Homo sapiens: one gene and its partners. The protein of the gene in region 3 interacts with the protein of the main gene of each other region in a pairwise test. Each region holds a gene or a part of one and is shown on either strand. Other genes may lie near its edges.

The links.
Region 1: the proteins of SNTG2 (region 3) and PALS1 interact in binary tests that used the Homo sapiens proteins (3 or more experiments, as listed by UniProt).
Region 2: the proteins of SNTG2 (region 3) and SCN5A interact in a two-hybrid assay, tested with the Homo sapiens proteins (one study listed by IntAct).

What each region holds. Positions count from the first base shown.
Region 1 is NC_000014.9:67,299,366-67,309,342, forward strand, and holds part of PALS1 (protein PALS1), read left to right. Parts: intron 1-2,023; coding exon 2,024-2,101; intron 2,102-2,606; coding exon 2,607-2,753; intron 2,754-3,044; coding exon 3,045-3,206; intron 3,207-4,156; coding exon 4,157-4,234; intron 4,235-9,977. UniProt on the Homo sapiens protein: Plays a role in tight junction biogenesis and in the establishment of cell polarity in epithelial cells.
Region 2 is NC_000003.12:38,644,610-38,655,371, reverse strand, and holds the start of SCN5A (sodium channel protein type 5 subunit alpha), read left to right. Parts: upstream 1-5,684; 5' UTR 5,685-5,841; intron 5,842-10,762. UniProt on the Homo sapiens protein: Pore-forming subunit of Nav1.5, a voltage-gated sodium (Nav) channel that directly mediates the depolarizing phase of action potentials in excitable membranes.
Region 3 is NC_000002.12:944,625-955,399, reverse strand, and holds the start of SNTG2 (gamma-2-syntrophin), read right to left. Parts: upstream 4,552-10,775; 5' UTR 4,404-4,551; coding exon 4,332-4,403; intron 4,116-4,331; exon of another isoform or gene 4,008-4,115; intron 1-4,007. UniProt on the Homo sapiens protein: Adapter protein that binds to and probably organizes the subcellular localization of a variety of proteins. May link various receptors to the actin cytoskeleton and the dystrophin glycoprotein complex.

The DNA of each region.
Region 1 (9,977 bases), on a different chromosome or scaffold from region 3:
ATCCCTAAGTATAATAAAAGTCCATTCTTTTACTTCCTTCCTTTTGGTTATCAATTTTCTGATTTTTCACATTTAACATACATCATTTTTATAATTAAAAAAATAATTAGTTTTAAAATACAAAAGGGTCTTGCCTCTGAAGGAAAACAAGGAAAAGTGGTATAGCTAAAGAACAGTACAAGGTCAGGAAAAGGTATTTTTAAAGATAAGGGATTAGAGTATTTTTATAGGCCAATGGAAAGGAGCAGTAGAATAAAAGAATAGCCTTTTAATTCCTTAACACCGTTGTAGAAGTAGCTGATGATATGTGTTGACACTAGAATAAGCAACATATAGGTTAGTAGGGCAGTGGGTAAACACGGGAGTTCTAAATTTCTTTAGAAGGTAAGATCTCAGAGATGTTTAGGAACTGACTTAAAAGTGGGAATAGGGAGAAAATCTCTAATACGGAAAATTATTATTGAGCTGACTCAGTGTATTTTGTATACCCTTGGTACATTTTTAATCCAGAATTATCTTCCCATCCTCAGAGTTTCTTCAGCTGTCAAAAGGTGTATGATCAAGACTACAAATTTCATTTAAAATTAATGTAGACTTAATAAACTTTAAAAGGGAAAATACCCTCTTTTAAAAACAACTTTTAGTTACCCACAGTCTTAAATCCTGGGTCTTAAAGCCTTAAAGCCTTGTCCATTGTAAGATTTTAGTTGAGTTCTTGAAGAAGATAATATTTGCTGTGCCGTCCTGTTTATACATATGGAACTCTACAATTAGAAATATAATTTTCTAAGTACCAAAACCTGAGGACAGACTGGTTTTGGTACTGTCATTGCTTTGATCCACTTGCTGTGGTAAAATTAATTAATCCCAAAATTATCATCTCTTGGGTTTCATAGGAAAATTACTGATAAAATGATTTAAAATAGCCATAAAAGGTATAGAATTACTGGGTTCCTGTATTATGAATTACCTTTTTTTTTTTGAGAAAGTCTCATTCCATCATCCAGGCTGGAATGCAGTGGCGCCATCTCAGCTCACTGCAACCTCTACCTCCTGGGTTCAAGCCATTCTCATGCCTCAGCCTCTTGAGTAGCTGGAATTACAGGCACACGCCACCACGCCTGGCTAATTTTTGTATTTTTAGTAGAGACAGTATTTTGCCATGTTGGCCAGGCTGGTCTCGAACTCCTGACCTCAAGTGATCTGCCTGCTTTGGCTTCCCAAAGTGCTGGGATTACTGGTGTGAGCCATTGTATCTGGCCTGTTTTAAGATTTTCTTAATCAGTCTTTGAAGCACCATAAATAGTAGGTGCCATTCTAAAGATAAGGAAACAGGCTAAAAAAATTTATAACCAAGGGGAGTTTATCCTAGGAAGACAAAGATTTCTCGACTGTGGGAAATTTAATGTAATCCATTATATTATGGTGATTGTTCCATTACACTCATATAAATTCATCTTGTTAGACTGTCAGTCTTTTTTTTTAATTATATAAAAAAATTTATAAAATAGAGACAGGGTCTCACTGTGTTGCCCAGGCTGGTCTCAAACTCCTGGGCTTAAGCAATCCGCTTGCCTCAGCCTCTCAAAGTGCTGGGATTACAGGTGTGAGCCACTGCACCCAGCCTGACTATAACTCTTTAAGTTGTCATCTCTGATTTTAAATAGTCACATAAATGATTTAAAAACTATAAAATAGCAAGGTAACTGTTAGGACAGTTTTTCTTTTCTTATGTAATTATTATTAATGAATTTTATGGTATGTTGGGTGAAACGTTCAAGATGGAAGTATTTTGTCTATAGGCGTAAGTACCAAAATATTATTTAGTGTTTTTTTAATAAGAAATACTGTTGTTTTATCCATAATAACAAGATTGAAAACTCTAATAATTCTTTTTAGTGATTTTATTTCTTACAAGTATTTTTATTATTTTAATTTGTACTTAAAAAATATGACCCTGCATACAGGTGCTACTGATACTTCCTATAATCTAGGAAGAATAATCTTTATTTTTGTTTCTTAGGTACAAACTGTTTTGAAGCCAGTTCATCATAAGGAAGGACAAGAACTAACTGCTTTGCTGAATACTCCACATATTCAGGTAGAAAATGGACAGAATACTATATATGTGGTTTTTCCAGCATTCTTCTATTTTTTTAAATCAAAGACTCCAGTACTGGAAGAGATGTCAAACATTCTCTAGCCTATTTTGATGTTTACAACCCCATCTATAACATAGTAGTTATTGTTGGATTATATATTTTCAGATTTAAAATGAACCAAATTATTTTTGAAACAACTTTTTCTTTAAAAATTAGGCAAAAATTCTTCCCCCCTTTGGTTGTATTTTCTGTAAGTTTAATTATCTAGGGTGTGTAGACCTTTACATTGATGTTATCTTCCGAAGTTTAGTAAGCATTTTAGACTTTCATAACCCATTCCAGAGTATGCCCTTAGTATACTTAACACATCTTTATTATTAGCTCTAATTAATTATAACACTTTTAAAGATTTAATGGTCAGAATACTATGTACATAGGTTAAAAATCACTCTGCAGAAATAAATCATGCTGTTACTTAAAATGCCATGGATTTCTTTGAAACAGGCACTTTTACTGGCCCACGATAAGGTTGCTGAGCAGGAAATGCAGCTAGAGCCCATTACAGATGAGAGAGTTTATGAAAGTATTGGCCAGTATGGAGGAGAAACTGTAAAAATAGTTCGTATAGAAAAGGCTCGTGATATTCCGTTGGTAAGTGTCCCACATACTGTTTTTAAACAAGTGCATTTTTCTGCTGTTGTGTGCTTCAAAAGTCTGGTTAATTTCAGAATTCTAATGAATAGAGTATTTCTGAAGCAGAAAGTGTGGGGGAAATGGTCAACTTTTAAATCTAATTACAATTACTCTAGTTGTGTAAATAAATTTTTTCTTAAGATAACTGAAGGTTAGTATTGTTGAATGGAAAAAATAGAATTTAAAAATAAATGCTTAACAAAAATTGTATTATTTTTATTTTTAAATTATACATATATATATTTTTAGGGTGCTACAGTTCGTAATGAAATGGACTCTGTCATCATTAGCCGGATAGTAAAAGGGGGTGCTGCAGAGAAAAGTGGTCTGTTGCATGAAGGAGATGAAGTTCTAGAGATTAATGGCATTGAAATTCGGGGGAAAGATGTCAATGAGGTTTTTGACTTGTTGGTAAGTTGACGCAGCTAGAAGAATAATTGATAGCTTTTAGAAAGCTCTTATTAGACTTTAGAATAAAATATTTTTAAAATAACTGTTAAGAGCACTAGATGATTTCTAGCCTGATTTTTCCATGATGTAACTGTTCCACAGTATTTGTTAGCAGTTTTATTTTTGGGTGGTACCACTGATATTTTTTTACTTTCTGATGTATCACTATCACATATATTTTATTTTTCTGGAATCAGTAATATAACTCATTAATTCACTCAGTACATATTTATTGAGTGCCTAATATGCACTAGCCACTTGGGAAACAGTAACAAAACAAAGTCTGTGTCCTGATGATTTTTTGTGTTCTTTTATTTTATTATCTGTAATTGATTGTTGTTTTCCTAATAATATTAGATAATAACAGTGCTATAGATCTGCAGTGTCCGGCATAATAATCACTAGCTGCATATAGCTATTTCTGTTTAAATTAAGTAAAATTTAAAATTCAGTTCCTTATTCGCACTAGCTGCATTTCAAGTGCTGAGAAGCAGTATGTAGCTAATGGCTACCATTATTAAGATACAGAAATAGCACATTTCCATCATTGGAGAAAGTTCTATTGGATAGTGCTAGTATAATCAGAAAATCATTTCTAGACATCTTTTGAGTGCAATTTATGATCACTTTGTACACACGCACAGACTAGATTTATGGTCCTAGTTATTCAGCATCTGTTATTACAGTGGAATCTGTACTATCTACTGATTCTGTTGTAAAATCTAGAGACATCTTCACACACTTATTTTCATCCAGCCCCATTCATTGCTTTGGTAGAGCAAAGTGCTGCTGGTCATTTAAGTCTGTGGAGGGGTTCTGAAATAGTCCAGTTTAGGGAATATAGATCATAAAATCATGGAATGATTTTCATAAATGCAAATTTAAAAAATAACCTGATCTTTCTATTACAGTCTGATATGCATGGTACTTTGACTTTTGTCCTGATTCCCAGTCAACAGATCAAGCCGCCTCCTGCCAAGGAAACAGTAGTAAGTGATTTTTAAATGTTCATTATTTATGTGTTTGTGGATGCTGTTTACTTCTGTTACTGTTTACTGTTACAGAAATGTCACTGTTTCCTGTACTCAAATAAATTCAATCATTTTTATTTAAATAAATATGAAATATCAATGTTTTAAATTAGTAAACTCTGCACCTTTTTTTTTGGAAGGTGGAAGATGGAATCTCCATCTGTTGCCCAGGGTAGAGTGCAGTGGTGTGATCTTGGCTCACTGCAACCTATGCCTTCCAGGTTCAAATGATTCTCCCACCTCAGCCTCTTGAGTAGCTGGGATTCCAGGCGCATGCCACCACACCCAGCTGATTTTTGTATTTTTGGTAGAGACAGGGTTTTGCCATGTTGGCCAGGCTGATCTTGAACGCCTGGCTTCATGTGATCTGCCTGCCTCGGCCTCCCAAAGTGCTGGGATTACAGGTGTGAGCCTTCACATCCAGCCAACTCTGCACCTTTTTAAAATAAAAAGTAGAAAATAATTTCAGTTTCAGAATTTTTTTTATAGTTATAGGTGGGTTTACTTAACTTAGTATGGAGTAGGGCAAGTGCTTTTTAAAAAGTATGTGTAACCCTTCTTTTAGAGTATATTGTTCTGTTAGACATTTACTCAGCTAGATCTGTTAAAAGTCAGTCTCCATTACCATACAGTCAAGCAATTGCATTCCAAAGTATATATCCAAAAGGACTGAAAACATATATTCACATAAGAATGTCTACATGAATGTTCATAGCAGCAGCATTCACAGTAGCTAGAAAGTAGTAACAACCCAAATGTCTGTCAGGTGATGAATCAAAGACAAAATATGTATGTATGATGGGATATTATTTGATAATTTTAAAAGCCTACAGTACTGATATATGCTACAACATGGATGAACCTTGAAGAAATTATGCTGAGCGAAGGAAGCCAGTCACAAAAGGCCATATATTGGTTCATTTATATAAAATGTCCAGAATAGGTAAATCCATAGGAGAGAAAGCAGATTAGTAATTCCTTAGATGTGGAGATGAGGATTTATGAGGGAATGGTGATTACTAATCAGTACCAAGTTTCTTTTTGAGGGCATAAGTATGTTTTAAAATTGTTTGTGGTGATAATTGTACAAATCTGTGAATAAACTAAAACCATCCAATTGTGTACATGAGTGAATTGTATATGAATTATATATCAATAAAGCTATTTAAAAATGAAACTTTAAAGTGTTGAATTAACATGGAAGCTTGATGTATTGCATCTGTTATTCTTAACTTTAAAGCATAGCAGTTTGAGAAAGAACACAGTTTCATTTTTCTCTCAATATTTCATCACAGGTATGCTTTATAGTTTGGCTATCATTCCATGTTTTCCCTTAATTTTTTACAGAACATACGGAAGTTGATATTGTATCTGCAACCTACTTTATGTTTACAGTTTTTTTGCAGGAAGAGAAATGAGGAAATATAGTTTGTCTTTGAATTTAAACAGCTTGATTCTCTGTGCATTGTGCTGTTCCCTGTATCTCTTCTGTGTATAAGCCCTGAACTTCAAAAGTAGCTCTGCAAACTGAGGAAACATAACAGAGGAGGGTTGGAATATACTCCTACTTACTTATCTACAATAATCCATCCCTCCTGAGTAAATGACTTTTGTCTTTTGAGAATAAATGTCAGAAGTTAAGACATTTTTTTTTTTTGAGGTGGGATCTGGCTCTATTATCCAGGCTGGAGTGCAGTGATGTGATCACGACTCCTGCAGCCTTGACTGCCTGGGCTCAAGCAGTCCTCCTACCTCAGCCTCCCTAGTAGCTGGAAACACAGATGCATACTACCACATCCGGCTAATTTTTTTGTACTTTTGGTAGAGATGGCTTTCACTATGTTGCCCAGGCTAGTCTCGAACTCCTGAGCTCAAGTGGTCCACCCGCCTCGGCCTCCCGAAGTGTTGGGATTACAGACGTGAGCCACAATGCCCAGCCAAGACATGTTTTCTCAACATTTTTTTCCTGCTATTCATGCAGAATCTGGAATTCTGTAAAAGAAAAGCCATTTTTTTCATGGATAGAATTAATCGAAGTGTTACATTGAAACTTGTTGATTCTCGTTGTATGCAAAACAGAATATCAAAGCAATTAACTTACACAGATTGTTTCAACCTAAGAATGAAATAACTTACTTATCCTTTAGTGGTTATTTAACCCCCAACTTTCATTATTGATTAAGAATAAAAGGCTGGTTTAATCTGAAGACCAAAGGAATATAGGTTCATGGTGAACAATCTCTGGAACTACTTAACTGGAAAATGAAGTAGCTTAAAAAGGAAGAAAGTGGGAGAAAGAGCAAAATGCCACATCTATCCCTTTTAAAATGGAGCTTTTTCTGTTCTTTTTACTTGGAGTCTCACTCTTGTCACCGAGGCAAGCAGTGGCACCATCTGGGCTCACTGCAACCTCCGCCTCCCAGAGTCAAGCAGTTCTCCTGCTTCAGCCTCCCTAGTAGCTGAGACTACAAGTGCATGCCACCACATCCAGCTAATTTTTGTATTTTTAGCAGAGATGGGGTTTCACTATGTTGGCCATGCTGGTCTCGAACTCCTGACCTCAGGTGATCTGCCCGCCTTGGCCTCCCAAAGTGCTGGGATTACAGGCATGAGCCACCGAACCCGGCCTATTTTCATATTTAAAGTAGGGATCTTTTCAGAATAGAGTGATGTGCAGTATTTTTCTTTTCCTTCTTTTCTCTTTTGTTTTTTGTTTTTTTTGAGACAGAGTCTTGCTCTGTCGCCCAGGCTGGAGTACAGTGGTGCGATCTTGGCTCACTGTAACCTCTGCCTCCTGTGTTCAAGCATTCTCCTGACTCAGCCTCCCAAGTAGCTGGGATTACAGGCGCCCGCCACCATGCCTGGCTGAATTTGTGTGTGTGTGTGTGTGTGTGTTTGTGTATTTTTAGTAGAGACAGAGTTTCACCATGTTGGCCAGGCTGGTCTTGAACTCCTGACCTCTGATGATCCGCCCACCTTGGCCTCCCAAGTGCTGGGATTACAGGCATGAGCCACCATGCCCAGCCCCTTCTTTTCTCTTTTTATTATGAATAACTCTCAATTGCAATATATCTTGCCAAGTTTTGTCAGACCTAACTGGCTTAAAATGAACTGCTATTATTAAAGCTCATTGAGGCTGTCCAGAAAGGAAACAGTAATAGGAAATCATAATCTTGGTTGACATATGCAGAATAATTATCTATGGAATTAATAATCTAAAGAAATTAGAACCAATTTATTGAGTATCATTATGGTACAGGTCAGCATCTGTTGATAGCAGCAGCAGCAGATATCTTCCTGATTTATGTTTTGTGATGTTAGAAATGTGTTTAAGACAGATATACAAAATAAGTGTTATCTGAAACCCCTATATAATGACTTGTTGAATTATGATGTCATGTATGGCAATAATAAGCTGTGTCAGAAGTGCTCTCTTGAGTTCTTAAATTTCTTTTGTATCACACATAGCAATCAGTGGCTGCTCTTTCAGTAGCAGAGGGCAAGAGTCTTGGCACCTCTGTATTTCACTTCCTGAGTAACTGGCACATTTGATCTAGGAAATGCATACATTATTCAAACGTACAGTTTCCTTCTCTCGGCCTTTTTAAAAAAAGGAAGGATTGGATTTCCCAGACTAGTTTGTAAAACTTTAGATTATTCTATACTATAATAATATGTAGGGAGGGCATAATAGACTTTTATCTGAATGGGACTTTTTCATTTAGTCTAATGCCATAATCTAACAAGGAGTGTATTTAAATGAAGAAGGATCACATCGCTTATTAGTTACAGAATATGTACCAGAAAATTAACAGATTATTGATTGTTTAATACATATAAGCTATTATTATGATTATGTACTCTGTGCCAGGCACTACAGAGATAACTGTGTTGTAAAGAAAAGTTGAGAACCACTGCTATCAAATACATTGCTTTCCCATTATAGGTATAAAAATGTATTAATAAAGACATTTATTTCTTGGTGGATGTGGGGAAAGGAGAAATTCTAGTGTTGTGTGGAGATACTTAAAAACTTGCTTGGTGCTATAAAGGCTTTCCTTGACTCACTTTCACTATTTTCTCTTCTACAATGAACTTTAAGAGTTAAAGATAAATCTGCGATAGTAAGAGATACAGAAATAAAAATTACAAAGAAAAATATTTTGGTAGCAGAGATGTGGAATCAACCTAAATGCCCATCGATGATAGATTCGATAAAGAAAATGTGGTATATATACACCATGGAATACGAATGCAGCCATAAAAAAATGAGATCATATCCTTTGCAGGGACATGGATGGAGTTGGAGGCCATTGTCCTTAGCAAACTAACACAGGAACAGAAAACCAAAAACCACATGTTCTCTTACATGTGGGAGCTAAATGATGAGAACACGTGGACACATAAAGGGGAACAACACACACTAGGGTCTTTCAGAGGGTAGAGGGCAGGGGGAGGGAGAGGATCAGGAAAAGTAACTAATGGGTACTAGGCTTAATACCTGGGTGATGAAATAATCTGTACAACAAACCCCCAACACACAAGTTTACCTATGTAACAAACCTGCAGTTGGATCCCTGAACTTAACAGTTTAAAAAAAAAAAAAGTCAGTGTAAAAAGTATAAAAGCCAACCTAATACTTAGACAATAGAAAAGGGAAAAACCAAACTTCCTTTTTTTTTTTTTTCTTTTTTTTCTCTTTGATTTTGAGGGCGTCACCAATGTGATAGCCTTACCTTCATGAGTACTAACCTTTCCATTAAGCTAATCCCAAAGTTGTCTCCCAAGTACACTGTCCAGGTGGTTGTGGCAAATTTATACTTTTCCAAAGGAGTGTCCATTGAGCAAGTGGAATATAGATCCTGAGTTTTAGATCAGCACTCTCCAAATATTTTTTTCTTTTTCTTTTTTTTTTTTTTTTGGAGACAGAGTTTCACTCTGTTGTCCAGGCTGGAGTGCAATGGTGCCATCTTGGCTCACTGCAACCTCCGCCTCCTGGGTTCAAGTGATTCTCCCGCCTCAGCCTCCCAAGTAGCTGGGATTACAGCTACCCTGTACCGTGTACAAGTACCATCTACTGTGCCACCAGCTAATTTTGTTTTATACCTTTATCAATTAAAAAACATTGAACATGTCCCCTCCCATATTGTATATATATGTACTACTCTACTTACTATCCCAAATTACAATATAGGACAAGTTTTATTAATAAGTAATTCTAATAGCCTTCTTGATTGGTTGAAAAACAATATTTTGGAACATTGGATCCCTAAAAAACATGTAAATAAACTGATGAATCATTATCCCTGTACCCTATCCCCATTTCATCATTACGACTTCAAATGTGAACAGCTTATAGATATTAAAAAAAGGAAAAAGAAAATGTTGGGCTGGAAGATAATTGCGTCCAAACAGTTCTACAATTTGAAATGTAAACAGAAGATTTTGTTTTGTTCAGAAGCCAAATACTGTTTTGATCAGATATACTGTTCTGATATTATTATAGCATTATGAGGCCCTGGACCTTTCCTATGAGGGTCAGCTTATCTCCTTCATTTTAAAGGGGCTTTTTTTGTTGTATGAGAAACAAAATAATTTTGACACTAGCAGGAAAGATTGGTGGAGATAACTTCTAGAACTGGTAAGAATTAATCAGTGGAATATATGGATAAAAGTCATATAGTATCTGTTAAGGCAATAC
Region 2 (10,762 bases), on a different chromosome or scaffold from region 3:
GATCTCGGCTCACTGCAACTTCTGCCTCCCAGATTCAAGTGATTGTCCTGCCTCAGCTTCCCGAGTAGCTGGGATTCCAGGCACCTACCACCACACCTGGCTAATTTTTGTATTTTTAGTAGAGACGGGTTTCACCATATTGGCTAGGCTGGTCTCGAACTCCTGACCTCAGGTGATCCGCCCGCCTCGGCCTCCCAAAGTGCTGGGATTACAAGCATGAGCCACAGTCCCCAGCCGACAGTGAAATAATTGTAAAAGGACAAAATGTACAGAAGAGGGGCCAACAGCGGATATGATGACAACTTCCTGCAAGTTTGAGCCATAACTGCCAGAGCAGAGTGTGTCTGCAGAGGGAAAGCTGGCAAAAGAAAGCAAGGGATAGCCACTCTCTTCAAAACCCTGGAAAGTTCTCAGGACTCCAGGCATTGGGTACCTTCAAAAATGGGGAGGAAGAGTGAGGTTAAAAACACCAGAGCTAGTAAATAGTTTGTATTTGGAGTAACTGAGCTACCAGGCCCCTCCTCACCCAACACAATCTGGCTGCGGGTGGCAGAGAATCCTGTCTTATTTGTTTAAACAAAGAGTGAAAGAGAAGGCCAGGCGCGGTGGCTCACGCCTGTAATCCCAGCACTTTGGGAGGCTGAGGCAGTTGGATCACGAGGTCAGGAGTTAGAGACCAGCCTGGCCAACACACTAAACCCTGTCTTTACTAAAAATCCAAAAATTAGCTGGGCATGGTGGCACGTGCCTGTAATCCCAGCTACTCAGGAGACTGAGGCAGGAGAATTGCTTGAACCTGGGAGGCAGAGGTTGCAGTGAGCCGAGATCGCGCCACTGCACTCCAGCCTGGGCGACAGAGCAAGACTCGTCTCAAAAAAAAGAGCATGAAAGAGAAGTACAAAGGTATTAGTTCTATGGTTCACTGTCATCAAGGCCAATGTTTCTGCAAATCTCCCAGCCTTACCTTCAAGGCTGAGAGAGGTTTTGTAAGCGCCAAGCATTATGTCCTCATTCAAGGCAGGGAGAATCAAGAAGAGGAAGACAGTAGAGCCAGCAGCTCTTGTCCTCTTTTACCAGGAAAACAAATGCTCTCTCAGAAACTGCCCTTCCCTAGCAGAAGTTTGCTTCTGACCCTTGGCCCTCATTAAGTTACATGGCCGCCACTGGGTATAGGAAAAACTGGAAAGGCAAATACTGTTTGCCTCTTACAGCCTTCATGGAAGAGGCAGGCAAGGAGAAAGAGGGGTGGGGATGAATGCGGAGCAGGCAGAGTTTCTTGACAAGTGGGCAGTATAGATGGTAATGTCAGTGCCCAGTATCAGAGATGTTTTCTCTTGGGCTGGTCAGTGTCTCAATGTGAAATTCCCCAGCCCCCTGCCTAGTGGGAAGTGCACATAAGAGTCAGAGTTCCAGCGCCCAGCAGAAGGAGGAAACCAGGGTTCTCACTAGACCCTCTTACTTTCAGTAAGGCTCCTCAAGCCTGCCTCCACTGTGCCAGATGCCCTCCATCTAGAGCTCACAGATAGCCATCTGCATGAGGCAGGACCAGCCTCTGCTGGGGAGGGCTGGGCAAGGCGTTTCTGGGTCTGCTGGCTTTTGTGTGGCCTTTCCCCCAGGCCTCCTGTTCTCAGCCCCAACCTGCACCTCCACCATCTAAGATGCCTCCTGGTCCTGACTGTTTATGGATCCGAGACCCCACTTGCTTCTTTGTCCACCTCCACCCCTGGAATTAGCACAGTGAAGAAAACAGAAACACAAGACAGTTACTACTCTTCCAGCCATTTACCTTCTTCAATCTCTCACCTCAAGGGGAATGGATTAATAAAGTGCTGTGGATGCAGAACACAGAACATTCTGCAGCTATCAGAAGCAAAGAGCCAGCTGCCTACACCACAACACAGATACAGCTCAAAAGCAGGGTGTTGAGGGAGAAACATAAGGAAAAGAAGGAAATCTAGAACGATACCCATTTATATAAATGAAAAGCACATACACACCAACAGCCATTAATCATAAAAAATGTGCTCAATTTCATTAGTCATCAGGGAAATGCCAATTAAAACCAGAATATGAAACCTCTGCACACCCACTGAAGGAGATAAAATGAAAATGACAAAAGTATTAAGTGTTAAAGGATGCATGCATTCACTGCTGGTGGAGTGAATACTGGTGGAACCACTGTGGAAAACTGTCTGGCAACATCTGCTAAAAGCGAACACACATTATCCTATGACTCAGCAATTCCACTCCCAAATATGTACCTGGCAGAAATGGGTACATATGTTCATCAAAATTTATGTACTAGAATGTTCATAGGTGTGCTACTCATGAACCCCAAACTAGAAACTACCCAAACACCCATCAGCAGTAGAATGGGTAAAGTCTGGTATATGCATACAATAGGATGCTGTACAGCAACAAGAATGAATGAACTACAACAACAAGCAGCAACATGTGACTCTCATGAGCGTAAAGCTGATCAAAAGAAGCCAGACACAAAAGAGCTCCTATTATACAATTCCAGTTTAAATAAATATCAAAACCAGGCAAAACTAGCAAGGGGAATTCGATGTGACTGTAGTAGTTAACTCTGGGTGGGTGTAGCGGTGGTGACAGAAAGGGGCACAAAGAGGTCTTCTGTGGTACTGATAACGTTTGGTTTCTGTGTTGTGCTGCTCACACGGATGTGTTCAACAACAGAAAACCCTTTCAAGTGAACACTTAGGATTTGTGCAGTTTTCCATTATGTAGGTTCAATGGAAGTAAAACATAAAAAGAAAAGCTTTGGGCTGTTAGAAGAGAAAATGCATATGCACAAACAACAATACTACCTGTTTTACAAGGATGTGCACATAAAGACCTACTTTAGCTCCTAGAGGGGTGCCTGTGTGGAGAAGGAGATGGCAGTGGAGTGATGATGGGGGAAGAAATAAAACAAAAACACAAGAGAGGAGTAATGATATGGTTAACCCAGCTTTGAACCTGAGGCAAAGTAAAGGCAAACCCTGGGCGAAACTGAGGGGCGAATAAAGGACATACTAGTTTTTAAAAACATTTATCTCTGACAGCTGACAACATGTTCCTGTTATTGCTTTAATTAAATAGGGTTGGCCAGACATGGTGGCTCACGCCTGTAATCCCAGCACTTTGGGAGGCCGAGGTGGGTAAATCACGAGGTCAGGAGTTCGAGACCAGCCTGGCCAACATGGTGAAACCCCGTCTCTACTAAAAATACAAAAAATTAGCTGGGCATGGTGACGAGCACCTGCAATCCCAGAGACTCAGGAGGCTGAGGCAGGAGGATTGCTTGAACTGGGGAGGCGGAGGTTGCAGTGAGCCGAGATCACGCCACTGCACTTCAGCCCTGGAGGCAATGCAAGACTCCGTCTCAAACAAAACAAAACAAAACAAAACAAAAAATTTAAATAGGGTCTGGCAAAGAGAAGGGAGTAGCCAAGATCTTGGCAAGGGCTCTTTGTAGGAAGTGCCTGTCTCCAGACACCTGTTGCCTGTCTCTGCACTCTGAGGCCTCTCTAGGACCACAAGGTGTGCTTTTATGGATGAACTTCTACAGGTTCAGAGCTCTGGTTCCCCATCCCCTGGGCTTCTCTCCCCCTGTTTAAATTCAGGGTGCATGTAGACTTACCAGGCTCAGCCCACCTCTCCTGCTGGCAACATCCAGTTGCCCAATACTAAACAGGAGAGTGAAAACCCCACTTCTGCTACATATGGACGGAAGGGAGGCAGGTATCCACCCCTACTCCCAGCAGCTTCTATCCTAGCCTTGTCTCCTGCTTGACCCAATGTCAGTTTGCAAGTAGAAGCTTCATTCTGAGGCCGAGAAGCCCGTGATGGAAGTTCTTAGGGGAGGTAGGACCTTCCTGCTACTGTACTCTCCTGCCTGGTAGGTGTGACTCTGGGAAGGCGGCTGCACGTGGGTTGAAACGTTGACACTGCCTGCACTTCCCCTTCTGGCCGATAGTGGGAGCTGCTAGCCAACCTGAGGCTCGTCAGGCGCTAAAGGCTGGCAGCCGACCTGTGTGGTCCATCCGTCTGTACCCCAGACACCCCACTCAACTCGGGGCCGGAGAGGCCCATGTCCTGAACTTTCCTGTGGACTGACTTTCCTACTGATCCCCTCCTGCAAGCAGAGCAGCCCCTCCGTATGTACCTAAGGCGTCCAACGAAGCCCCACACCCAGGTCGCAAACGGACGCTGTCCCCCACCCCCCTCTTTGCCCTCCCACCTCTTCAAGATCCCCATCATGGAGGAGCAGGTCCCAGCCTCTGGGCTCCCAAACCCAGCACCTCTGTGCCCTCTGAGACCCTGGCACCCATTTGGCTCTCTAAGAGCGGTTCTTGCTTTTGGGAGCCCTGAAAATGTGGCAGAAAAGTGTACCATCCCTTCCAATGACTGTACTTTTTTCGTGGGCAAAAGCTGATGGCCTGTTTTTTGTTGTTGTTTTGTTTTGTTTTTGTTTTTGTTTTTAGAAGCGCAAGATTTATTGTGAAGAGGGAAAGAACAAAGCTTCCACAGCGTGGAAGGGGACCCAAGCGGGTTGCCCTGATGGCCTGTTTTGTTTAAACAAGAAGTGTGTCCCCATAGGTCCTGGGCATGGGCATGGGAGCAACTGTTTGTCAGCGTATGTCTCCGTGTGTGTGTGCCTGTGACCATGTCTCTGAGTGAGAAACAGTGGGTGTGTAAGTATGTGACTCCAGGCTCTGCATGTGTCAAGGTGAAGGTTGTATGTGGCTCAAGAGGGTGGAAGTATATATATAAAGAGGTATATACATGTATATATATGTATGTGTGTGTGTGTGTTTGCGCGCGCGCGTGTGTGGGTGTCTCTGTGTTGGTTGCCTGCTTGCTTCTGGGTCTGGGTGTGTGTTTGGTTCTGTCAGCATGTGCGTCCGTGTGTTCAGGTAGATGTGTACCATTGTGCAGATTTCTGTGGCATCACTAAGTGTGTCTCCAGGAAAGTGTGGTTCGAGTGAGTGTGTGTGTCTCTGTGTCAGTGTGTCAGTGGATGTGTGTCTAAGTCATGTGGGTGTCTAAGTTTGTCAGAGTGTCTTCCTCAGTGTCAGTGTGTGTCAATGATGTGTCTGTCTGTGTCTGTGTGGGTGTGTGGGGGTGTGTATCTGTCTCAGGGTGCATGTGTGTGTCTGTGTCAGTGCAGGTATGCCTATGGCAGCGTGTGTCTGTCTCGGCATGAGTGTCAGTGTATGCCCGTGTCCACGTGGGTGGGTGGGTGTCTGGTAGCCTTCCCAAGTCAGCAAGGTTGCGTGTGTGTGTGTGTATACTCTGGCGGGTGCTGGTGTGTATGCCAGTGTTTGTTAATGTGAGCCTGTCCGCGTCCGCGTGGGTGGCCATCTGTGGTGAAGCGTCGCCGGGTCGCCGTGTGTGTACCCCCGCCTATGTCTGTCTGTCCGCGGCCGCGTGTGCGGCTGTCTGTGGCTGTGAGCCCCCGGGTCAGTGTGGGAGTGTGCGCCCCGGCGGGCGCTGGTGTGTCCCCCCTCCGAGCGGGCGGAGCACCACGTGCGGAGCCCTGGGCGCGTCGCTCTGGGGCGGAGCCAGCCCGGGGCCCCAAGCCCCAGGCCGAACCCAGGCGGGGCCCGCCCCGACCCCGCCCCCGACCCCGCCCCCAGCCCGAGCCCGCGCCGCCTGCCCAGCCCGGGAGCCCGAACAGAGCCGCGGAGCCGAGACGGCGGCGGCGCCCGTAGGATGCAGGGATCGCTCCCCCGGGGCCGCTGAGCCTGCGCCCAGTGCCCCGAGCCCCGCGCCGAGCCGAGTCCGCGCCAAGCAGCAGCCGCCCACCCCGGGGCCCGGCCGGGGGACCAGCAGGTGAGCGAGTGCCCCCGCGCCCGGCAGCCCTGGCCCGGCCGGAGCCCCCTCCGCCTGCCGCCGCCCAACTTTCCTCCCCGAGGGCCGAAGCCTCCAGTCCCTGCGTGCTCCTCCCTGCCCCGGGTCCGCCCAGCCGCTCCCTCCCCGATCAGTGCCCCAGAGAGCCGGAGGGGGAGAAGGGGCGCAGATCCGCCCGGCTGGAGGGTATCCCCGGGGGAGACGTCTCTAAACACCGTGCGCCCCCCTTCCCTTCCCTTTCCTTCCGGGTTTCCCGGTGCGCTGTCGAGGGCCGGGGGAGGGGGAGCTGCGGCCCCAGCTTCCCGGCCATCCCTGGCGCAGGCTCGGGGAGGGTCTGGGATTGGGACCCGGATACCGGAGGCCGGAGACCCCAAGGTCAGAGCGGCGACTAGGCGCGCCATGAATGTGGTTCCAGAGAGCGGGGTTTGCGGGGGCTGACCGAGCAGGGCTGGATATGGGGGAGGAAGCCACGCACCCCCTTTCTCTGGGCCCAGGGGGAACCGTCCGCTGGGGCTGTCCTCTCTGTGGGACGAGATCTCTGCGCGTTTAGACCATGTAGAGATCTCGGTGCCCTTTGACGCCCTAAAGGGGCCGCATCTCCTCTGTCTGATCTCTGTGCTTCTCGAAGGGGTGGAGATCTCTTTGCGGTGAGATTGGAGAGAGTTCTCTGCCCTCCTCTCTCTGAGCCGGAACAGATCCACGCACCCTGATGGGAGGTGGCTCTCGACCTCTGTGTTATTTGATCGTCTTTGGTGGCGCTCTGGAAGAAAGTGGAGGTGCCAAGCTTTGTCCGAGAGGCCAAGAGCTGGTGGGGGCCAGAGGTGTGGGGACTGTTAGTGGTGGTGATGAGGATGGGGGGAAATGATGTTGGGGACAAGTCCCTGGCTGTAGGCCTGCCTTGCAAACACCTGTTGGAGAGCAGAGCACAGCCAGATCAGGATGCCATGGCTAAGATAGTGCAGGACTCACTCTTGTGCTCCTCAGTGCCTTCAGCCCAGCCCCGGGCCATGGGATCTATCTCCTCTTAAGGTCCTGGGCCTATGTTCCATTCCCAGGCATCTGCTCGCCTCCTGCTGAGACCCCAGGTGTGTCTCCCAGTGAGCCTAGGCAGTATCATCCAGATGGCAAACCACGTGACCCCCACCATGCCATGGCATCCCAAGCCCTCTCCCAGGTTCCCACCATCCTTCAGGATCTAGTGGGACCGTGAGCAGCAGAGGCCCCAGCTACTGGGGGCCCAGGCCATTGCCGCTGCCCTCAACTCCATCTGTTTGACCTCATCTCCACTCAGTTAGAATTGGGCAGGTGCATATGAATCGGTGGTAATGAGTGCGAGGTGGAATGAGGGTGGTCAGGCTGCTGTTGCAGGAGCATGGAGAGGGTGAGGTCAGGTGACAGCCAGGGTGTGGAACACAGATTCTATGTTACAGTGTCCAGCTCTGTGCTGAAAAGAGCCTCATTAAACTTTTAATCATGTCATCACTACCATATCATACAAGTGGGGAAACTGAGGCCCAGAGGAGCTCAAGGACTTATTCAATGTCATCTAGAGAATCAGTGGATTGGGGGCACCACGCAATGTGAAGACACCTTGAGATCTACTTTCTGTGGGGCAAATAAGCCTAGAACTGAGCCAGGAGGATCTGAGCAGAAGGGGAACTGGCCCTGGGGTGCCAAGAGCCAGCATTCAGCCCAATGTGGCAAGGGCAGCTGCTGTGCTCCAAGGTGCTCGGCTCCCTCTCTGTGTGTTGATCAAAGCTCCTCTGGAAAAATTCTAGTATTGACTCACTCAGCATGAAGATTGGGCTTGGAGGACTAGTGGGAAGCACCAGAGACAGCTGGGGATGGGAGAAGAGCGGAGGCTGGTGCCCAGGCAATCCAAAGAGAAGGGAGTCCTGAGGGCAGCCAGGGACAGTGGCAAATTGCAGTTTGTGTTCTGTTCAGAGGAGGCTGGCTTATGCTCACTCTTGGGAAGGTTATTGGAAGGGTGTGCAGTGGTAGAAGTGTGTCCCCAGAGCCCATTCACAGGAGAGGTGGTTACCTTTGGCCGGAATAGTCAAGAATCTTATTCTAACAAAAATAACCTTCCACACTGGGTTTTGAAGGGTGAATAGGAGTTTTCCAGGCAAGGACAGTGCAGTCTAGCTGTCAGGACCAGTATGTACAAAAGACAGAAAAGTGAAACAGCACAATTATTAGTTGAGTGATTCGTTGGGCCCCATGGTGTGAGGAAGAGAAGAGCGGAGTTAAAGCCAAGGTCACAGTCACGGGGGCCCTTGTGAGCTCTGCTCAGGAATTGGGAATTTATCCTCAGTAATGTTACTAAAAATAGCTAACATTCACTGAGTGCTTTCTGCAGGCCAGGCATGGCACTAAGCGCTTTATACGGTTAATCTCACTGAATCCTTGCATCAACCCTAGAGGTAGGGACCATCATAATGGCCGTTTTGCAGATGGTGAAACTGGTGGTCCAGAAAGGTTAAATAGTTGCACACCGTCACATTTTCTAAGTAGCAGAACTTGGGTTTGAGCCCAAGTGTCAATATCTGCTGTGTACTATACCACCTCCCCAGCTCAGACCATGGGTGCCATGCAAAGTCTTTCCATTGAAGGAGAGGCGACTGGCAGCTTACCACAGGTAATAGAACTTATGGTGTCCCATCTTCCTTCTCTGTCAAGTGACATGCTGCTCTCCCATTCCCCACCTCCAATGTCTCACTAAGTGAGGTGTGCTGCCCCCTGGCGCACCATGAGAAGAAGAATGGGCAAGTTAAATTTGGGTTGGCAAGCTTGATGAAGAGCAAAGGAAAAGTGACAGATGTTTCATGGTTCTGATTTGAACCTGTTGTACTTCCAGGGACAGATGCTGACATCCAGAAGGTAGTTGGAGGGAAGGGTCCAGGTAGGAAGTATGTTCAGGATGGAGATCTGGGCTGGAAATGGAAACTTAGAGCTTTCAGCAGAGGTTGGTCATTGGAGATGTGGCACTGAGTTAGATTGCCCAGCGAGAGTGCAGACCTGGGGTTCTCACTCCTGGTGACATTAGCATCACTTGGAAAGCTTTAAGTAAAAATACCTATGCTCAGGCTCCAGCCCTAGACATGCTAATTCATTTGACCCTGGGATGAGGCCTGGGCATCGGGAGTTTTGGAAGCACCCAGGTGATTCTAACGTGGTGTAGAGGGTAAGAAGGAAGGGGGCTGAGTCAGGAGCCCAGAAATACTCCAACCATCAAAGCAGGAGAAGTCTGCAGAGAAGGCTGAAAAGGAGCAGCCAGAGAGGTAGGAGGAAAGCCAGGAGTAGGAGGCGCTGCAGAAGGCAAGGAGAGTGCCCTGCTCGGGGGGAGGGAAAGTGCCCTGTTTCTTTCTGCTGAGAGACTTAAGGTGCATTCTCAGAAGTTCATGGATAGATAGAAAAAGAATGAATAATTTAAAAAGAAGTGTCCATTAGATCGAGCCATGGTGAGGGTGCTGGTGACCTTGGTAGGAGAAACTCCACTCAGCGCCCGCAGAATGTAGGGCCCAGTACAGACAGGTTCTTGTTGAATGAATGAATGAGTGACTTGGTGGGAATGGAAGCCAGTTTGGAGTGGGTTGAGAAGCGAGCTGGAGGTGAGGACGTGGAGACAGCATGTATAGACAGCTCTTTCAAAGAGTTTGATGGTTGAAGAGGGAGGAGAGAGATAGAAGGGAGCTGGCGAGGGGTGGGGTCAGGGAGGGCTGTCGGGAGAGCCTGGAGTGGACACTGTGGGCATGCGTGTCCGTGCAGCACATCGCCATGCAGGAGCCTGGGGGAAGGCCTTTCCCTCAGTGAGGGCTGCAGGTCTGTGAGTTAAGATCGTACCAGTGAAGTGTGTAGTGGTTACTGTTTGTTCAGGGGGCAGTCAGGAAGGCCTGGGTAGAGGGAATAACTCTTTCTGTGAATCTCTGGGAGGGAGATTTTGATGGCAGGAAATGTGATTCCTGCTGGGGGTGGCAGGCAGAAAGGGAAGGGAGCCCTTGCTCTGCAGAGAGAAGGGTGTTCCAGAAAGCCGTATTTAGGGACAAGATTAAGTTGTCTAGGGCAGGTATCCAGGGTGATAGGATTGGGAGAAGGGAGCTGGAGTAAAAGCCCTGCGGCTAAATACATGAAGAAGGCAGAGAGAGGAAAAAGCAGGGCCAGTGAGTAGCCTGTGGACAGAGGCTGGGCCCCGTGGGGAGCAGACCCACGACAGGGCTGGCCAGGGCTGCAGGGGAAGCCTGGGACGGGAGAGCCCCACAGCCTGCTGCCAGCCCAGGCTGCCCTGATGCAGGGGTCTGAGGCAGAGTTCATGCCTTTGGGCCATGGAAGGTTCTAGAAGGTGTACAAGCTATAACAATTGTTCTTATGAAGTTTACATACAAGTAGGGAGATACCATTAAACCAATCCATACAGAAGATAATTTGAGATAGGGGCTAGTGCTATGAAGGAAATACAACAGGACAATGTGATGGAGAGACGTGGGGGTGACTCTAGACTGGCTGGGCAGGGAAAGCCCCTTGAAGGAGGAGACTGAACTGAGACCTGAATAACATGAAAGAACCAAGCCCGAGGAGGTCTAGGGAAAGAATGTTACAGAGGGAACTGCAAGTGCAAAGGCCCTGAGGCAGGGGCAAACTCTGTGGGTTGGAGCAGAGGGAATAGGGTAGGGATGGAGAGGTTCTGTGCCTCTGTTTCTGACCCACCCCTTCAGACTGCCCATTCGGCTATGCACAGCTTACACCACTCGCCTCAGGCTGGCAGCGGTTCCTGGGGATGAGACTATTTTTAGACACAACTCTCCTATCCGTGGGCCTAGAACATACCGTGTCTTTTTAAGATGATCAATATGGAATGACGCTATTTATAGAGACCCCACATCAATTCTCAGAGCCTGGGAGCCCC
Region 3 (10,775 bases):
GATATTTAGGACACTTGATTCTAATGTTCTATGTGATTGTTTTTATAATAACACGATTCGGTGCCATCATCAAATGATGTTCACCCAAATGTCGAGTGAATGTTGGTAACTCCCAGAGTTGATACTCAGAATCTTGACAGTGGAGGGTCACCTTTTTCATTAACACTAATGCGGATTATTGCAAAATAACAGGCCATGCACTGATCTAGGTTTCAAGTCCAGAGAAGTGAATGACATGCAGTTTCTTTACAAAGTATAACAGATAAAACAGAATTAAAACTTAGCAGTTTAGCAGTTAGCAGACTGTGAAGTTTAATAGTTTTTGCACTAAAAATATAACTTTACATTTTACAAATGTTTAGAACAGTATCCCCTAAATAAGAAGCATACTCACTTTCTTAAATCCAAAGTCTTTGCTAAATTAAAATGTAGCTAGTTTATAATCATATTTATAGGATGTAAAAATGTAGACTCCTTAAAAAGCAAACTATTTTAACATGTAATTCTAATTGCAAAATCACATCCTCATATTCACAGCATTGTTAACAGTATTTATTAAAATGTGCAAGGGGAGAAAACAGGAAGGTTCAGGCTGATGGGGTGAAGAAGCAGCACGGTCCCTGGAAGGCAGCCAGAAATGGGTGAGCTTTTGGAGGGCCTTCTTGTTCAGAGGGGCAGGGGATGAAGAGCCACAGGCTGGGGTCAGTCCTCAGGTGAGGGATTACACCCACATAGGGGAGCTTAGCATTTAATACAGAAATAGGAAGGATAACCTCGGCTTCCTGAATTTTACAGGGAACTTTAGTATGGACTGGGGGAAAGTGACATCTAGTGTTAGCTGAAAATAATCCAAAGTCGACTATTCAAAACTACAGTCATGACAACATGCGGTAACCAGCTGGACAACAATGACAAGTACACACCAGTTCAAGGTCCATTTTCCATTAAATCCTGAGTGCATTTTTCCTCCAAAAGCATGTTTTCCACCTTCCTTGTTGTGTCTCACTCAACAAAAATACCTCTAGAACTAATTAAAGAGTGAGTTTCTGAGGGATTTGGAATCAGATACAAAGTGACCTTCGGAACCCAAGCACACATTCCACAGGTGAGAAGCCAGAGCCAGAGAGGATGGTGGTTCCCGAAGCCGGGGTTCTCTGAGTTCCCTGGAACCCTGATCTCCCTCCTTCCTTCTCCATTTCCACGAGCACCTGCCTGTGTCCGCCCCATGCCCAGCAGCGCAGGAGCTAGGGGTGCGCAGCAGAGCCTGAGAGCAGCTCCTCTTTGGGGTCCCTCGTGTGCCTGCTGTCACATGCTACATGAGCTAACAGGAAAGCCAGAAAATCACACTGCTTAGTAAGTCTATCCTGAATATACCCATTTAGTAAATAGGAGGCCTGCGATGCAAACACACCCTCTGTCACCGAGAACTGCAATGCCAGCCCCTCTGCCAACTCACTCAGAGCCTCATGGGGTATCTTGAGAAGCAGATCTAAATTAAAACTGAAGCTTAAATGCCTTGTCTACAGTCATCATCCATAAAGATATCCAGAGACAAGAAGCTGTTGCTCCACATACACCATTCAGAAAACAAGGCAATTTTAACATCCCATGTTGGAAAAAAACAAAAACAAAAACAAGGCACACTTTTCTTAATTGGACCTCATTCAAATATTTACTGGGGAACATGTCTCCATGTCTCCTGGTAAAGTCAGGTAACTGCCTGCTTTGTAATGCATGGATTTTGCTTATGATGTCATAGACGTCAATAGAAATTCTACAGTTGAAATTAAAGATGAGTCAGCAAGGATGAGAAACATAACCAAAGCATAGAAGGAATGGGGAACCTTCTTAGGAGCTCAGATGCTTCATTCATCTCATGCAGCAATTCACATCTGTAAACAGATGATTAGGTGGTGCCCTTACCCCACATGCACCTTTAAAATGACCTAACGTGCTTTCCCCCTTCAGTGGGCAAGCTCATCACATAAATGGGCATGTTCCCGGCTCATGCCAATAATTCTTCCAGCGCCCCAGACTGAAGAAGTGTTGTCATTTAAAAGCAGCAAATGTGCTGTAAACATCAACCAATAGTAGTCTTTGAAGCTACAAGCAAGACACACTTCGCACATTGTACTGAGGTTGTCTGCCAGTGGGATTTTACCCCTCAAATCCAGGTATGGTCAGAGACAGAGCTCCATGAACTCACTTAACTTAGAAAAAAACATCGGGAACAGGCACTTGAAAGGGGAAACAAAACAGGTCTGTTACCGAACAGGAGACCTTCAAACGTGGCCAAATTCCATGATTCAAACAAGCAGTCATGATAAAGAATGTGTATAGTTTTGACTTCAGATAGAAAAAATATAACTAGAAATATAAGATTTAGAAAAGACTTTCATCTTTTTCTAGTTAAAAGCACCAAGTTCTCTTAACTGAAATGATTAAATAATTACACAAGTTGAATAATATTGTGCAGTTATGGTAAGAAAATAATTCTGCCATTAAGTAAGGATGACATTGTATACTAAGAACATTCATGTTTTCAAGACAAACCTGCCAACACCAATACTTAACAGATTCGTTTTAAATACATAAGAATCTGAGCTAACATGACCATGCACTGGTGTCTAAGGTAGGCTTAGCACATACCTAATTACTTATGACTGCAAAGTTAGGAGTCTTGCTCTTAAAATGCTCCATCTTATTGTAATACTTGGCCTCCAACGCTAAAAAAAAAGTTTCTTTCAATACAATTCAGACAGGCTGTTTCAAATAATCAAGGTCCTTATTAGAAAGAAAGCGCCAATCACATCTTGTAGCAAACAGGTGAGCAGAGGCCACTCTTGACTGGAAAACATCAAATTTAGCACCTTAATTAATACTGAGCGCAAAGGAGAGCATTTACTAGAATACGCGCAGTTGCTTTATTTGTTGACGTTATTGCCAATAACTCATCAAGTGGGTCAATCATGAAGTATGATGAATCCACTTCAACGCTTCCGCTATAATTACAATGATTAAAAGCAAGAATTGCTTTGCTCGAATGTCTGGAGAAAAATGCACAATCCCTAACCGTGGGAGGGCATCATTATAAAGCTGAAGGCAGTGACCAGACGGAAAGCCTGTGATTCCACAGCGCCTGCAGTTTTTACTGCGGTTTATTTCCAGGTAATCCCCGCATATTTTCTCGGGTTTGATTACCATGGGCAACAGTGGGATAGCTATTCATATTACAAAGTACTTCAAGAAACGAACACCCACATTTTACATGAAATTTAATTTTCATATTTTGTAGTAAAAGCCCAGAAAGGTGCTACTTGAATGAAGATGCACCTGTCTCTACATAGAAATCTTTTTAACATCACAGTAGCGACGACCACAGTCCTAGTTTAGAATCATTATTATGACGATAGGAATTTGTAGCAGCCCTCAACCCGTGGCCTTCTGAACCGTCTCTCCACTGTCCTATAAGGGAGGGCTAACTGTATTCCTGGTCGCTCCTGGGACTGGGAGCTCCTGGGGAAGGAATCCTAAAGGAGTGGTTGTCAATGCATTTTCATTAACAGCCGCGCTTCTCGGCAGCCTCCTAGGGCTGGGGTGGCCACGTGCTCCCTTAAACTGTTTTCACAACTCGAGGCTGTGCTGTGGGTGGCAACTTGAAGGTTTCCAAGAACTTTTCGTTTTTCTTTGGGCCAACATTTCTGTTTTCTGTCAATCAATAGTTTAGTTATTTAAAAATAAGAAGGTGAAGAGGGAGTTATTTAGGGTGGGAACCAGAATAGACTTCAAAAAAGAAATCCGTATTACCCAGTTGGCGTCCCAGCGGTTCCCCGAATGGCCTAGAGCCCCCAGCACCTGCCGAGGCCGCGCCATGCACCTGGCTGGGCTCAAACTGGCCAACTCAGACCTGGCCTGGGCGCCCGAAGGCTGCAGGGGGGACGCTCCGGTCCGAGCCACCGCCTGGGCCCGAAAGAGCCGCTCCTGGGAAGCAATGCCGGGCCAATCTCAAATCCCAAATTCTGGAAAGCACTACTTCCCACGCAGTAAAGGGAAGCCCGGGCGCCTCAAAACCAAACCTTGGAAGACGCTGGAGGAGCAAAGCCTGCAAGTTTCCAGTAAGACACTGGGCTGGAGGGAGCAGAGCGGCCAGGGGGCGGGTGCCCACTGCGTCCCGGGGCTCCGGCGCCCACCCTCCGGCCAGCCGTCCCCGGAGACAGGGAAGGGGTCGCGGGGAGCGAGGGGGCGTGGAGGGAGGAGGGGCGGGGGGAGAAGGGCGCGAAGGAGAGGGAAGGGGGGCCGGAGGTGAAGGGGCGCTGAGGGGCCGCACTCACCCGCGCAGGTACCAGCAGGCAGCCCTGGCGTCCGCGGGAGGCGGCCGGGGGCGGGGGTCCCTCGGTGCCCATCGCCGCCCCTGCGGCTGGGTCCGCGCTCCGGGCCGGCCGAGCTCAACGCCAGGACCCCGTCCGAGCCTCCCAGGGCCCCGCCAGGCGCCGCGTCCGCGCCCGCGCCCCTCTGCCGGCTCCGGCTCGGGCTCCACCGGGGCGCAGGGCTGGGGAACCGGAGCTCCGCCCGCCGACCCGGAGCACCGCCCACGCAGACCCGCCCCGGGCGAGGGAGGGGCCGGGCGCGCACCCGCGGGGAGGGCGGCGAGCGGGGATCAGCCGAAGTCGGGAGAGGGGCGCTTCCACGGGGCGGGAAACTGGCGCGCGACTCTGGGGGAAGTGCAGGATGGGGGGACAGGGGCGCTCCCGCGGGGGTGGATGGGGGACCATAGCGGGGCTGGCGGGGCAGGGGCCGGCGCACGAGGCTGGAGGAGGGGAGCGCGCGCTTCTACCCGGGCTGGGTCGCCGAGGTCCGCGGCGCATCGTGGCGGCGGTGGGCGGAGGGGGGCGGGGGGCACCTCTTCTCCCTTGTGGCGCAGGTGGGCGCGCTCTGGACCGGCTTGACGACCCCTCCCCGCCGCCCCACCTCCCTGGCCAAAGGTTCTCAGCTTCTAATCAGGGACATTTCTAGTCCACAGCCTCGAAGCCATGGGTTCTCCCCGGCCCTCTGAAGCCGCCACACCTGTGCCAGCCGGCCGCGTCCTCAGACCTTTCCCCGCGGAGTCTTCCCAGCACTTGGAGACGCAGCGCAGGGCCCCGAGGACGGCCTGGCCCGGAGAAAAGATACCGAAGCTCCAACTTTCCCCAACCCCGCTCCCCTCCTCCTTCCACCCTCCCTTCCCGCCCCCAAAGCTCGGGGGTCCTATCCCTCCTCCGGTCCGCGGAGTCTCCCGAACCCTGCGGGGACCCGGCGCTCGGCGGTGCCCTCCTGGGGCGCACGGGGCTGGGGCGGGAGCGAGGAGACCAGGTGGGGAGGGGACCCCAGATCTCAGACGCCAGGGGAGACGGCGTTTCCCGCTGTTCATTCAGGTTTGTGCCAAAAGGAGCCTCACAGATGCAGTATTGGGTTTGGTAGACTCAAATCGTCTTGTTTTAATGTAAATGAAAGTAAGTTTAGGATAAATTCCAGTGCGGCGGGGGCAGGCAAGGCTACCCACATTTTTTAAAAAGAAGCCAGCCCGTATTTTTCTCCCTTTCCAAATCCTCCGCCCCCCAGTCCTTCGACCCAGGCACGAGCGCCCATCGCGGAGGCCACGATGCCCGTTTTATTCCCTCTCCACGGCAAGGAAAAGCAGCGAAATCTGAGGTCTTCAGAGGTTAACCCTATCTAGGAGCAGAATGTGACGCATTGTAAACAAATAAATATTGAAAACTCGATGTTAAACACTTTACTTTTTCTGACTCCGACTTGCTTGACCCCTGAGCAGACCTGGGTTTCGAACACAGACGCCCTTCCCCATTTCTCTATTCTCTGTATTCCTGTTTCACCTTCACGGCAGTCTGCCAGCACTTCTTAGCACTCAGTTTAACCAGAGGACAAGCTCTTGAATAGCAAAAACCAGGTCTTTTTATACGTGGCACAGTGGCTGTTACAAAATATGCTTCTTGGGTGAATTGGTAAAAAATATTGTATTACTTTTTATTTGTAGCAAAACCTAGAATAAGAAAAAGTACAAGAGATTATTGTTTGCCTTTAAATTGCATTTTTAAAAGAGCGTGCATATAATCTCTGAGAAATTAAATGTCTACAAATAGCACAAAGATATTGTCTCATTACCTTGCAAAGGGACATTCTATTCCAGGGCCTGAAGAAGGAAAAACAGCGTGTTGCATGCATAAATGTTGACTTTGAGAGACAAGTTTTTGTTAAAATTTTATCGTTAAATGAATAGACACATATATTTTTGTTTTTCAGACCAAAGGTAATTGTTAATTCATTTGTAAAATAATGTAGTTTTGGCTAACAATCTCTGGAATCCTTTCTATAATAAAATTTTGTGATTCCAGGACGTCGTAGGCGCTCTGGGGCTGCTTTTGAAAGGCTAATTAATTCAAGTTTTAACTGCCTATCTGCTTTTATGCATCTGTGTCAGGACTGCACGTAAGGGTTATTTTGCTTATTTTAAATACTAGGGTTCTACTGCAATAACAATAACAATAAAAAGTAAAACCCTGACTATCCTGAAACTCTGCGAGGGAATGTCCCCCATGAGGTTACCAAAATTCAACTTTCTGGTTTTTGTGATGAGTATAGCTTTGATTCTGAGATGTGTCTAAAACCAGTTGCAGTTAGTGTCTCTTTATTAACTTTTAACTTTGAAATAATTCTGAATTTACAGAAACTTTCTAAATGTAGTACAAAAAACTCCAGTAACCCCTCATCCTCATGGGTATGTTCCAAGACCCCCAGTGGCTGCCTGATACCGTGGATAGTACTGAACTATGTATGTGTGTATATATATGTATCAATTGCATGCATATATATATGTATCAATTGCATGCATATATATATATATATATATATGCATATATATGTATGCATCAATTGCTGACCAAACTGATGTATGTGGCCTAGACAAACTGGAAGATGCCCTGGTCAAAAGGCAGGAGCAATGAGGTTGTATTTCAAGGTAAAAATACAACCTTGAGGCCGGGCACAGTGCTTCACACCTGTAATCCCAGCAATTCGGGAGGCCAAGGCAGGTAGATTGCTTTGAGCTCAGGTGTTTGAGACCAGCCTGGGCAACATGGTAAAACCGCGTCTCTACAAAAAAATACAAAAATTAGCCAGGCATGGTGGCATGCACCTGTGGTCCCAGCTACTAGGGATGCTGAGGCTGGAGAATCCCTTGAACCCTGGAGGCGGAGGTTGCATTGAGCCGAGATCATGCCACTGCGCTCCAGCTTGGGCGACAGAGTGAGACCCGGTCTTAATAATAATACAACCTTGGCCTTGTCATTTTTATAGTCAACATATTCAGAATGGCCAGGTACATTGTCTGTTACTAATGAGACTTTATATTCCAACCTTCCCCCTTCCAAGGCTTTGGGAGGAAGTACTGGTGGAGCCCTTCCATAAACATGGTGGTTACCACTCATGCTTTCTGGTTATGTTGCCTGAACACAAGCAGGTAACGTTTGTTTTTTGAGCATAAGTGTTCCTCTGTGTGTGCAGCACACCTGGCTTGGCCACACGTCCTACAGCATTGCACACGGCACAGGGTAAATCAGCCCTTCAGTGTTTTATGCCCTGGGGCCTTCTTTGCCCTTTCAAGAACGTAGGTTCTGTTGGGTATCTTCTTCCAGAGGAGCCTGGTCTCACTGCAATTGAAGACTTGCTTTGGATGGCATCCTTTCCCTTTAATCAACTTCAACTCTGCCGGAAATATGGCAGCAGCTTCTTCACTGGCAAACACAGCCTCTCCAGTTTTTTGGTTTTTGGTTTTTGGTTTCGTGACAAGCCCACTCCTAAATCAGTGTAGCTATGCCTCACTTGCCATGAATGGCTCAGTGTCACTCACTTTGGGGGACTGACTGCTGAAGTCTTCCCATGGGATTGTGCTTTCTGCGCTGACGTGCCCTCGGTGGGAACACCTTTCCGCTCATGTCTTCTACCTACAAGTTCAGCGTCTTTTCCGTCTTAAATAGGCACTTATCACTCACTGCAGCCGTAACGTTTGCAGTTTGAAATGTGATAGCAAAACTAGCATGATTTCTTTTTTATTTTTATTTTTATTTTTATTTTTATTTTTTATTTTATTTATTTATTTTGAGATAGAGTCTCACTCTTGTCGCCTAGGCTGGAGTGCAGTGGCGCGATCTCGGCTCACTGCAAGCTCTACCTCGCTGGTTGAAACAATTCTCCTGCCTCAGCCTTCTGATTAGCTGTGATTACAGGCGCCCACTACCACGCCAGGCTGATTTTTTTGTATTTTTAGTAGAGATAGGGTTTCATCATGTTGGCCAGGCTGGTCTCAAATTCCAGACCTCAGGTGATCCGCCTGCCTCAGCCTCCCAAAGTGCTGGGATTACAGGCGTGAGCCACCATGCGCAGCTGGGTTTCATTTTCGAATTAACTTAAAATACTTTCTGGACTGACAGCCTTGTGGGAACATCCTTTATATTGCTTGATTTGCTAACTGAACCTATTCCCCCTCCAGGCATAGTCTTATTTCTGCAAGGAAGACCTATTACCTTCCTGTTTCACACTTGGTTACCATTCTGTAACTAGTTTTTCTGCCCCTAGAAGTTTCATTCTTACCACACTGGAAATCTTAGCAATTTCATCATACATTTTTTTCCTTTCCTTATTAAAGTGAGTACTTTCACTTTTTCACTTAAGGAAGCACTTTATGGCTTCTCTTTGCCCTAGTCTTGTGTTTGGGGCCAATACTGAATAAATTAAGCAAGACTTGAACAGAAGCACTGTGCTACCTGGACAGTCAATTTATAACCCAGACAGCTACTAAGTGTCAGGATGTGTGGTGCACACAGTGAATTCATGGGACAGAGAAGGCGTGAGGATTCGCCATGCTTCTCAGAACAGGGCACAACTTCACTCTTATGAACTGAGAGGGCAACTTACATCCTGAGAGGCACAAAGGCGTCGGTGTGAGGATTTGCCATGCTTCTCAGGGCACAACTTCACTCTTATGAACTGTTTATTTCAGGAAATTTTTATTTAATATTTTCAGACTGCAGTTGACCACAGGCACCTGGGACCACAGAAAGTGAAACCGCACATAGCTGGGGCTGCTGTGCCCTTGATCTTTCACTCAAGTCCCAGGTAATACTCAGCTTCTCTCTATTTATATGCAGATTACTTTCCATGAAACCTGTTCAGAGTAATTTGCAGAAATAATGTGCCATTTCCATTAAGTACTTAACAAATGTTTCCTAAAAAAATCAAAAGCACTCTCACGCCTGCACAGAGTATATTCATCACTTCTATTCTGTACCGGTAGTGGAAGTCCTAGCCTAGCACTTAGGCAAAAGAAAGAAATAAAAGGCAACCACATTGGAAAGGAAGAATTCAAATTGTCCTTGCTTGCAGAGGAGTTGGTATTACATATAGAAAACCCTAAAGACTCCTTCAAAAAGTTGTTAGAACTAATTAATAAGCACATTCAGTGAGGTTGTAGAACACAAAGTCAACACACAAATATCTGTTGAGTTTCTATACATGAATAGTGGCTAATCTGAAAAAGAAATCAAGCTCATTTATAGTAGCTACAAAAAAAAAATGATACTTAGGCATCAATTTAACCAAGGAAGTGAAAGATCTCTGTGCTGAAAACTATAAAACGATGAAAGAAATCGAAGAGGACTCAAATAAATGAAAAGATATCTTGTATTTGTGGATTGGAAAAATTAATATTGTTAAAAAGTCCATATGACCCAAAGTGATCTACAGACTCAGTGCAATTCCTATCAAAATACCAATGTCATTCTTCCCAGAGATAGAAAAAAAAAATTCTAAAATTCCTGTGGAACCAAAAAAAGCCTAAGAGCCAAAGCAATCTTGAGGGAAACAAAAGCCCACGCTGAAATAAGAATTCAGCTGGACTTGTTTACCAAGACAACAGGTCACATGACTCCACTAATAAGACCAGAGACAGTAGAGAAACCAGCTAAAGCCAGCTAGAACCAAGATGGCAACAGAAATGACCTTTGGTCCTACTCAGTGCTTATTATTTCTCTAATTATAATGCATTAGCATATGAAAGCCATGCCCACCAGCACCATGGCAGTTTACAGATGCCATGGCAATGCCCGGAAGTTACCCTGTAAGGGGGAGAAACCCCAGTTCCAGGAGCTCCCCACCCCTTTCCCTGAAAACTCATGAATAACTCACCGCTTGTCTAACATATAATGAAGAAATCGCGCTAAGACAGCCAGCTAGAAGCAACCCTGGAAATACCCTCCTATAGTCTTGCCCTGCTCTGCCTGTGGAGTGGCTCCTTTTGTTCCTTTTTTTCCTTAATAAATTTGCTCTTGCTTTTCTCTGCCACTTCACTCTTGAGTTCTTTCCTGTGCTAAAGCAAGAACCCACTTGGCTTCCTAGGCTGAGCCCCAGTTTTGGAGATCACCCTGTGACAACACCACTTGACTTCAAAATATACCACAAAGCTATAGTAACTAAAACAGCATGGTATTGGTATAAAAACAAACATGCAGACCAAAGAAACAGAATAGAAAGCCCAGAAATAAATCCACACATCTACAATCAAGTAATTTTTGACAAAGACACCAAGAACACACAGTGGGGAAAGGACCACCTTTATAAATGGTGCTGAGGAAACTGGATAGCCACATGCAAAAGAATAAAACTGGACCCTTATCTGTCACCACTTAAAATCAACTCGAAATGGATTAAATACTTGAATGTGAGAC